3 separate regions of the Homo sapiens genome follow, and all the other regions are reported to be linked to region 3. Evidence: microRNA targets listed by miRTarBase, many of them from high-throughput screens and not tested one by one. Region 3 holds a microRNA gene; each other region holds the end of a gene's coding sequence.

Evidence for each region. The annotated mature microRNA hsa-miR-6792-3p reads CUCCUCCACAGCCCCUGCUCAU and lies in region 3 at 964-985, shown strand. An mRNA with a match to its seed (bases 2 to 7 or 8) in the 3' UTR can be bound and repressed. Matches are read on the target gene's strand: a 7mer-m8 pairs with bases 2 to 8, a 7mer-A1 pairs with bases 2 to 7 and ends in A, and an 8mer does both.
Region 1: miRTarBase lists JAML as a target of hsa-miR-6792-3p. Seed matches in the 3' UTR shown: 8mer at 2,275-2,282 and 8mer at 1,959-1,966.
Region 2: miRTarBase lists NODAL as a target of hsa-miR-6792-3p. Seed matches in the 3' UTR shown: 7mer-A1 at 2,375-2,381.

The regions. Positions count from the first base shown.
Region 1 is chr11:118,191,867-118,195,042 of GRCh38, forward strand. It overlaps JAML (junction adhesion molecule like), which reads right to left. Exons shown (of 10, transcript NM_001098526.2): 10 at 1,859-2,551. The coding sequence ends at 2,459. Among named protein-coding and RNA genes, the nearest start is that of SCN2B, 17 kb to the left of the region's middle. RefSeq lists an enhancer at 2,398-2,587.
Region 2 is chr10:70,430,348-70,433,523 of GRCh38, forward strand. It overlaps NODAL (nodal growth differentiation factor), which reads right to left. Exons shown (of 3, transcript NM_018055.5): 3 at 1,589-2,741. The coding sequence ends at 2,589. Among named protein-coding and RNA genes, the nearest start is that of NODAL, 9.7 kb to the right of the region's middle.
Region 3 is chr19:7,616,517-7,619,692 of GRCh38, forward strand. MIR6792 (microRNA 6792) reads left to right here and starts at 923; the gene lies at 923-989. CAMSAP3 (calmodulin regulated spectrin associated protein family member 3) reads left to right here. Exons shown (of 17, transcript NM_020902.2): 14 at 7-106; 15 at 810-922; 16 at 1,027-1,145; 17 at 1,236-1,788. The coding sequence ends at 1,541. It overlaps XAB2 (XPA binding protein 2), which reads right to left. Exons shown (of 19, transcript NM_020196.3): 19 at 3,009-3,131. The coding sequence ends at 3,070.

The sequences.
Region 1 (3,176 bases), not on the chromosome of region 3:
AGTCCCTACTGGGGCACTGCCTAGTGGAGCTGTGAGAAGAGGGCTACCATCCTCCAGACCCCAGAATGGTAGATCCACCAACAGCTTGCACCGTTCACCTGGAAAAGCTGCAGACACTCACTGCCAGCCCATGAAAACAGCCAGGAAGGAGGCTGTACCCTGCAAAGCCACAGGGCAGAGCTGCCGAAGACCATGGGAACCCACTTCTTGCATCAGTGTGACCTGGATGTGAGACCTGGAGTCAAAGGAGATCATTTTTGAAGCTCTAAATTTTGACTGCCTTGCTGGATTTCAGACTTGCATGGGCCCTGTAACCACTTTGTTTTGGCCAATTTCTCCCATTTGGAATGGCTGTATTTACCCAATACCTTTTACCCCCATTGTATGTTGGAAGTAACCAGCTTGCTTTTGATTTCACAGGCTCATAGGTGGAAGGGACTTGCCTTATTTCAGATGAGACTTTGGACTGTAGACTTTGGGTTAATGCTGAAATGAGTTAAGACTTTTGGGGGCTGTTGGGAAGGCATGATTTGTTTTGAAATGTGAGGACATGAGATTTGGAAGGGCCAGAGGTGGAATGATATGGTTTGGTTCTGTGTACCCACCCAAATATCATCTTAAAGTATTATTATTATTATTATTTTGAGATGGAGTCTCGCTCTGTTGCCCAGTGTGGAGTGCAGTGGTGCAATCTCAGCTCACTGCAAGCTCTGCCTTCCGGGTTCATGCCATTCTCCTGCCTCACCCTCCCGAGTAGCTGGGACTACAGGCGCCCGCCACCATGCCCGGCTAATTTTTTGTATTTTTTTTAGTAGAGATGGGGTTTCACCATAGTCTCGATCTCCTGACCTTGTGATCTGCCTGCCTTGGCCTCCCAAAGTGCTGGGATTACAGGCGAGAGCCACCGCACCCAGCCCATCTTAAATTATACTCCCATAATTCCCACATATTGTGGGAGGGGCCTAGTGGGAGATAATTTGAATCATTGAGGTGGTTTCCCCCATACTGTTCTCATGGTAGTGAATAAGTCTCATGAGATTTGATGGTTTTATCAGGGGTTTCTACTTTTGCATCTTCCTCATTTTCTCTTGCCACCGCCGTATAAGAAGTGCCTTTCACTTCCCGCCATGATTCTGAGACCTCTGCAGCCATGTGGAACTGTAAGTCCAATTAAACCTCTTTTTCTTCCCAGTCTCGGGTATGTCTTTATCAGGAGCATGAAAACAAACTAAATACAGGCAGTATGGTCATTTTCACAATATTGATTCTACCCATGCGTGAGCATGGGATGTGTTTCCATTTGTGCTGTCTATGATTCCTTTCAGCAGTATTTTGTAGTTTTCATTGTAGAGGTCTTTCACCTCCTTGGTTAAGTATATTCCTAAGTATTTTAATTTTTTTTGCAGCTATTATAAAAGAGATTAAGTTATTGATTTGATTCTCAGCTTGGTTGCTATTGGTGTACAGCAAAGCTACTGATTTGTATACATTAATTATGTATCCTGAAACTTTGCTGAATTCATTTACCAGTTCTAGGAGCTTTTTGGATGAGTCTTTAGGGTTTTCAAGGTTTATGATTATGTCATCAGCAAACAGAGACAGTTTGACTTCCTCATTACCAATTTGGATGCCCCCCGCCAAAGGATTTTTAAGACTAACCTTATCAAATCTTACAATAGCAACTAAAAGTATAGGAACCGCACATTTCAGACCAAGAATTAAATCAGTGGCTGTCCACTGTGGCAACCCATGAGTATCAGGAAAGACAAATGCCTAAACTTCACCCAGAAATTTCAAATTAGGAGGCATGTGGTGAGGCCCCGCAAGGAGCCACCAGCAGGAATGAAGAACCACTGAGTTAAATCCCAAAACTGTATTCATACCCTACTTCCAACCCATTCACCCCAAACCTTTCCCAGGACCAAAACCAGCCTCTAGTGTGTTAGCACGGTTTGGCTTTCCTCCAGGAACTTCAGTTTTTCCAAAAGTTTCTAACTGTAAATTCCTCACCAGGACTTTACTTGCCCCCTCAACCGAGGCATAAAAATAGGACGATTTCCACAAACAACACTTATTTAGAAATAATGTGCCAGAGGAATGATTTGGGTTGGTTTTTATCTCTGATTCTTCCCAGTAACTCATCCACTAAGAACCCTGCCCACAGGAGGGTCTGATCCAACGGGGGGTTTGAGGCCACTCAGCTCAGCCTGGTTCCCAGGGCCAGTGTCCCACTCCAGAGGCCAAGTCCATGCTCCCCTCCCCTCAGCAGGCCTGTTCCTCCAGAGCTGTCCAGTCTCTCTGCCAGGCTCCAAATTCTCCATCTTCAGTGTATTGACCAAACAATGAGACAGGAGGACAGCTGGGAGAGCGGGAGTCTGAAATCACTGGTAGAGTGGCCCAGGACACACACAGGAGAGAGTCTCCACCGCTGCTGAGATGAAGGGACTCTCCATTCTTCTCAAAAGGCTTGCTGTGTTTTTGGCATTCCCCCACCTGACTTTTTTTCAAGTGAGTTGTTCCGATCTGACCTCAGAGAAGGCCAAACTGGGTGCTGTGGGGGAAGGGCAGAAAGAAACAAAACATGCTTGTAAGAAGTAGTTCCATAATCATAGCAGCTGCTGTTCATTGAGCTCTTCTCATGAGCCCGGCCCAGTACTGAATTTCATATGCATTATCTCATGTGATCCTTACCACCAGGAGGTAGGTATTATTATTGCCTTTCTAAGGATAAGGAAACTGAGGCTCAGACAGGCCAAGTTACTGCCCAAGACCATCTGGCTGCAACACAGAGTTAGAATTTGGACCCAGGTCTGTCTAACTCCACAGCTTGTGATCTTAACCTCTGTGTGTACAGCCTCAGAAAGGGAAAACAGCAAGGTGCCACTACATTTACATGAATTTCATCAATTCAACAACAAAAAACAAAGGCTCTTTGTTACCCCTGCTCCCTATCAGAGAACACCTTTATAAATGCAGTCTCAAACAAGTGGCCTGCAGTCCCAAATTCACCAACAGCCTTATTTAACTTGGCACATCATATTTTAAAATAACTTGACTGGCCCCTGCCAGCCTTTGAGTTTGCAGCCCAGGCCTCTTCTCTTACTCTATTGGATCTAGATCAAGAGGACAGGAATGGTGTTTTCAACAGAATCAAAACCATAATCGCCTAGCATTAA
Region 2 (3,176 bases), not on the chromosome of region 3:
CCCAGCTACTTGGGAGGCTGAAGTAGGAGGATTGCTTGAGTCCAGGATGGCAAGACTGCAGTGAGCCATGATTGTGCCACTGCACTCCAGTCTGGTTGACAGCAAGATCCTGTATCAAAACAACAGAAAACATCCCAGGTTCAGACAGGACACAATTCTCCAAGGTAGTATTTAAAGTGACTTATAGAGCCTTCAGCAAGCACATGGCCTAGAGCATGGAGCTATTCCCTAGGCTCGGGTAGGTAGGCTTTGCCCCAGTGACTCTGTCCAGGCAACAGAATGACTCTGCTGCTGACGTAGCAAACACTGAGCTTTCAGCAGGGGTCAGCAAAACACAGAGTTTCACTACTTTGTGCACTACTTTTATTTGACATGAGGCAATGCCCTGTCGTCAAGGGTTTGTTCTTGGAGTCAATACAGCTGACTGTAAACACTCCCACAAGCTGTAGCTACAAATAGCTTGACCTTTCGCTCTCTGGCACCAGCCATGTAAGAAAGTCCTGGGGTGGGATGTTCACTTCTAAGAACTAGTTCAGTAGTGTAATTGGGTTCAAATGTTTGGTTCTAAAGGCTAAGGCTTGGATCCCAAGATAGGTGAGCACAAACCTCTAGTTGCTGTTAAGCAGTAAGTGCCCGTAGGGCTCAAGAGACCAGAGCTCAGCTCTTGGCCCTGCCACTCCTAGCTGTGTGGTCAGGCCCTGAGGCCTCCCTGGGGTCTCACTTAGGAATGGGGATCAGACAAGCTGACCTCACAAGGTTGTCCCTGCTCTGCTGTTCTGTATATGGGCAGATGCAGAATCCTGTTGATTCTGAATTGTTGGATCTGGGCAGTCTATTTCTAGTCCAGGCAGTGAACAGCTGGATCAGCTTTGTTGTGGAATCAAGGCACTGAGGTTTCTCAAGCCCAGGCCTGGCTCCAGCAAATCCAGCCCCTTTCTGGGCCATGACTATGGTGTTGACTCAACCAAAGCCTCAGTTGAGTTCGTCTGAGCTCAACAGGGTTCACAAATGATTGGAATCATTTTCTTTAGCATAAGTGGGTAGGCTTCTTGGGAAAGCAGAATGGGGTAGATATACTGTGGGCTCACATTCCCAATAAAGTGGCCCCTTTGCTCCATGAAACTACAAAAAAAGTGCCCCTGCTTTGGCAATGCTCAATGAGATCAAGCTGTTAAGAGCAGAATTGCTTCTTTTGTTTGTTTTATTTAAACAGAGACAGGTTCTCACTATGTTGCCCAGGCTGGTCTTGAACTACTGGACTCAAGTGATCTTCCCATCTCAGCCTCCCAAAGTGCTGGGATTACAGGCATGAGCCACTGCACCCAGCCAGAATTGCTGCCTTTGAGGTCTTTTTACCTGGAAGATAACTGTGGTCAGGGGTTTTTGGGGATAGAGCTGCCTCACTCAGGCTCCTTTTGCTGTGCTTCCCATGTGGAACCTGAAATTAAGTCTGTCTTAGAACCCTGAGTAACAAAAGAGCCGATAAAGGTTAGATTAAGGGCATGTGGCAGGGACTGGGTTTAGCAAGCTTTATAAGCTTTAGAGGGAGGTAGGGATAAGGTAGCTCTTCCTATTCAGTCTACAGCTTAAAGCTCATGGCTCTTCTGAGCCTGACAACAGACATTTAATATGAATGCATTAGGATTCACCAGCGTTCCTTTTACAAGTGGAGACTGGACAGTGAATTGCTCACCTGAGGTCGCACAGCTTCCAGTGGCTGAGCTGTGACCATAGAGCAAGTATCTTGCCACCCAGGGCAAGGCCTTCACCACTGCTGGATAGGAAGCTCAGAGGCCTCATTAATAGCACACATTGAGAGACTGAGGTGGATTGTCACCAACTTTAACAAACTCAGGCTGTGTCTGCCGAAGCAGACTGACGCAGGGATGTCTTCTGTAACCCAACATGGCCGGTCCTCTTGGATGAGTTCCTGCCTCTGCCTTCACAGGCACCAGCTGGCCCAGGAGAACTAGACAATGGCTTTATTGTTGTACAGCTCATTAGCAGAGAACCACTCCAGTGAGCCTCTGGACAAGGCCAGTAGATTGCCACTGGCCAGCCAGAAAGCTGTGGGGCTCCCCCAACCCAGCCTGAGGCAATGAGATTGACGGACTCTTTTTAATCTATACAGTGATCCTTAATCTTTGGGGAGGGGGACAGGTCACACACAGACTACTTTGGAGAATACATGAAAGCTATAGGTGACTTCATCCCACCTCCAAAATACATGCACATATGTCTCAACTTTCACATACAGTTTCGGGGGGTTCACAGGTTTTTAAAAAATCCAGTAAAGAACTCATGCACTTGTGCTTTTCCTTGCCACTGTCTTTTCAGTAAAGAGAACATCCAGCCAGCCCCCTGCACAGGCTTCTTCCTCCCTCTTCCTGACAGCAGCCTCTGTGCTTGGCCAGACTCCACTGAGCCCTTCATTTACAGAGTGGGCAGCCCCTCCTCTTCAGTTCTGGTGGGCAGAGCAACTTTGCCCCTCTCTGTTTCTCCTTACTGGATTAGATGGTTATCATGTCTTCCAGGAGTTTCCCAGCCTTCCAGAGTGCAGGCAAATCCAGTCTCCCTCCAGGATGTCATCAGAGGCACCCACATTCTTCCACGATCATGTCTTTATGGTGATCTAGGAGCACTCTGCCATTATCCACATACAGCATGCTCAGCGGCTTGGTCTTCACTGGGGCACAACAAGTGGAAGGGACTCGGTGGGGCTGGTAACGTTTCAGCAGACTCTGTAAAGGAAAGGAAGGGTGTGTCAATTCACATCCTGATGGGCAGGTCAGAATAGTATTTCTGGGTAAAGAGTAAAAAAGTTACGGAGTTAAAGTCAGTTCCTGAGTGCAAAAATAGCAGAAAATTATTTTCATAAAGGAATTAGCTTGCCAATATATCATGAACTCTAATGTCTAAACTACCTTTAGCTCTGTGCTTGTTTTGTGAAAACAGCCTTTAAACAGATTCAAAAAATTACATGTATCTGGGTAGAGTAGTAGCTATTTTTTTTTTTAAGTGGTAGCTAATTTTTATGTTCTCCTATTATTCTAGTCTAAAGGGAATACCATTTTTTTTTTCTTTTTTGAGATGGTCTTGCTCTGTTGCCCAGGCTGGAGTGCAGTGGTGTGATCACAGCTCACTGCATCCTCAACCTCCTGGGCTCAGGTGATCCT
Region 3 (3,176 bases):
CCCCAGGCTCTCGGCTGAGCAAAATCTATTCCCAGTCCACCCTGTCACTGTCCACTGTGGCCAACGAGGCCCACAATAACCTCGGGGTGAAGAGGCCCACGTCTCGGTGAGTTTAGCCCGCACAGGCGGGGTTCGTATGCCGGGTGGCTTCCCAGAGCCTGGGAGGTGTGTGGGCATCTGGGTGAACCTAGAGGGCGGTATGGCTCGAGTTTATGGATACGCCATGAAGAGATGGAGGGACGCGTGTGGGCACGTGTGCATGGGGCATAGTCTGTACCTGGCAGACAGGACTCAAGCATGTGCCTCAGTGCACTTGAGTGCCAGGTGTTCCTGTGGGAGGAGGACAGCACGGGGCACTGCATGGACTTGGGAGGGTGTGCAGTGTATACCGCCTCCTCTGCAGTGTGTGTGGCCCGCCTTTTTTTTTTTTTTTTTTTTTTTTGTTTTTTTGAGAGGGAGTCTTGCTGTGTCGCCCAGGCTGGAGTGCAGTGGCGCAATCTTGGCTCACGGCAACCTCCGCCCCCTGGGTGCAAGTGATTCTCGTGCCTCAGCCTCCTGAGTAGCTGGGGTTACCCGTGCCTGTAGAGACGGTGTTTCACCATGTTGGCCAGGCTGGCCTCGAACTCCCGACCTCAAGTGATCTGCCCGCTTTGGCCTCCCGAAGTGCTGGGATTACAGGCATGAGCCACGATGCCCAGCCGTGGCCCTTATTTTCCTTGGCCCCTCTGCACATAGGGAAGCTTCCCATCTCTGACCCCACCTCCATCCCATCCTGACCCCACCTCCATCCCATCCTTCTCCCACTGCAGGGCTCCCTCCCCGTCAGGTCTCATGTCCCCAAGCCGCCTGCCTGGAAGCCGCGAACGGGACTGGGAAAATGGCAGCAATGCCTCCTCCCCAGCGTCAGTGCCCGAGTACACAGGTAAGCAGGGGCTCTGGGTGATGTGAGGAGCAACAGGCACCCTCCTCCACAGCCCCTGCTCATTCCTGCTGCCCCCCACCCCCTCCCACTGCCTCACCCTCTAGGTCCACGGCTGTACAAAGAACCCAGCGCCAAGTCCAACAAGTTCATCATCCACAATGCCCTATCACACTGCTGCCTGGCGGGCAAGGTGAACGAACCGCAGAAGAATCGCATTCTGGAGGTGAGCCCGCCCACACGTGGGAGTTGGGGGCTGGTGGGTGGGTGGGTGGCCTGACTTGGCCAGCTGACCATTTCCAGCACTCCTGCCCAGGAAATTGAGAAAAGCAAGGCCAACCACTTCCTGATCCTCTTTCGCGACTCGAGCTGCCAGTTCCGGGCGCTCTACACGCTGTCGGGGGAGACAGAGGAGCTGTCGCGGCTGGCAGGGTATGGGCCCCGGACCGTCACGCCCGCCATGGTGGAAGGCATCTACAAGTACAACTCGGACCGCAAGCGCTTCACCCAGATCCCCGCCAAGACCATGTCCATGAGCGTCGATGCCTTCACCATCCAGGGACACCTCTGGCAGGGCAAGAAACCCACCACTCCCAAGAAGGGCGGCGGCACCCCCAAATAGCCCCACCCGGGCGGTCCACGGGCCGGGCCCTGTGTGCTGCGGCCGCCATCCCCTGGAGGACAGTCAGTCGGTATTCCTGGGTCCTGTCTGTCCCCAACCGTGTCTGGGTGGGGCTGGAGTCTCCACCCTCTGACTTTGAGTCCAGTCCTGCTGTGGGGGCTGAGCTGGGAGGTTCAGGGACTCAGGGCTCAGCTCAGTCCCCTTGTCTGTCCTCCCCCACTTCTTGAATAAAATAATTTAAAGAGAAGTTGAACCTTGTCCCCCCCTCCGAGGCTGGCCGGGGTCCCACACTCCCTGGCTGTGTTTTTAGTCTCCTGTTCTTTCTCAAACCAACTCCTGTCTTCAACCCCCATAATCCCCTAATGCAGCTTCAGCCAGGGCACTCCCAGCCCCCAGCCAGGGCTGTTTCGAAGCTGCCTCTGAACTGATCTCTCAGGCTCGAGGTGTCCCACTGGCCCTTCCTGTGGCCTTGGCCACCCCCGCTTGCTGGATTCTCCTGGTCTGTGTGGCTGTTGTTACTGGCCCTAACCAGCGTTTGGCATGGGGCCAACTTCTAACTTGATCTTGTCTCCCCTGGCCAGCCTGGTGTTTCCAGGCCTGGCATCTACCTCTGGGCCAGTGATTCCAGGTTTCTCTGAGATCTGTGTTTGACAATCCAGTTGCCCCCTGCCATTGCCTGGGTGTCTCTCTCAGATGCAAGGCCTGCCCTGCAACCCAGGCTGGCACTGGCTTCCCAGCTGCCGCCCAGTTCTACACAGCTCAGCCCTCCCCTCCTGTCTCACTCGCTTCTCTCCAGCCCTGTCACCTCCCTGCAAAGTCCAAGCCAATGGCCTGGGCCTCCCCATGTCCCCAGCTGCCTCCTGCCCACACAGCAGCCTGTGTGACCCGTTCGAAGCACAAATCTGATTATATCCCTTGATACTTAAAACCCCTTAATAGCCTACAGCCCGCTAATGGCTTCCCAGGCTTAGGACTAAGGACCACGCCCTGGTCCTGGGCCGTGCACAAGGTCTGGCGCCTGGCCCCCGTCCAGGCACAGAAACGCGTTACTAATCAGTTCCCAGAGCTGGGCCAGAGCCTGCCTGACTCCAAGACTTGAGGGCAAGGGCCAGTCCCTAGTGGGGAACAGACAGTGGGTGCCACCCCAGGGAGGCGGCAGCTGCCTGGGGCCACAGAAGGGCTCTGAGAGGCAGGGGCTGGCGAGACCTGGGCAGCCAGGGGCTGGATTGCCCTTCCCAGGCTACAGAGGCTCAAGGAAGTTTCCGGGCAGGACCCACTCCAAGGCCCCAGGCAGCGGAGGGACTGGCCTCTCGAGTCCAGAACTGGCTCTGCGGGGTGAGGCCGGGCAGTATCTGGCCTGGGGCCCAGCCGCCCCACCTCCCACAGCAGCCAATCCCGGCCCAGGGCCAGGCACTCCTGAGCTGTACTCCCTCGGGCACCTGGGCAGCAGGAAGGAGGCTCAGACCATGATGTACAAACGTAGCTGTATTGGGGAGGGGGTGGGGAGGGGGGATGGGGGAGGGACGGGTCAGTCTTCCTTCAGGCTCCCAAACACTGCGGCTGGCACGCTCTGCTGCTCCAGCCGAACCTCTGTGGGGAAGGCGGGAGCCAGTCACCCTCCTGGCGTTGGCCTGT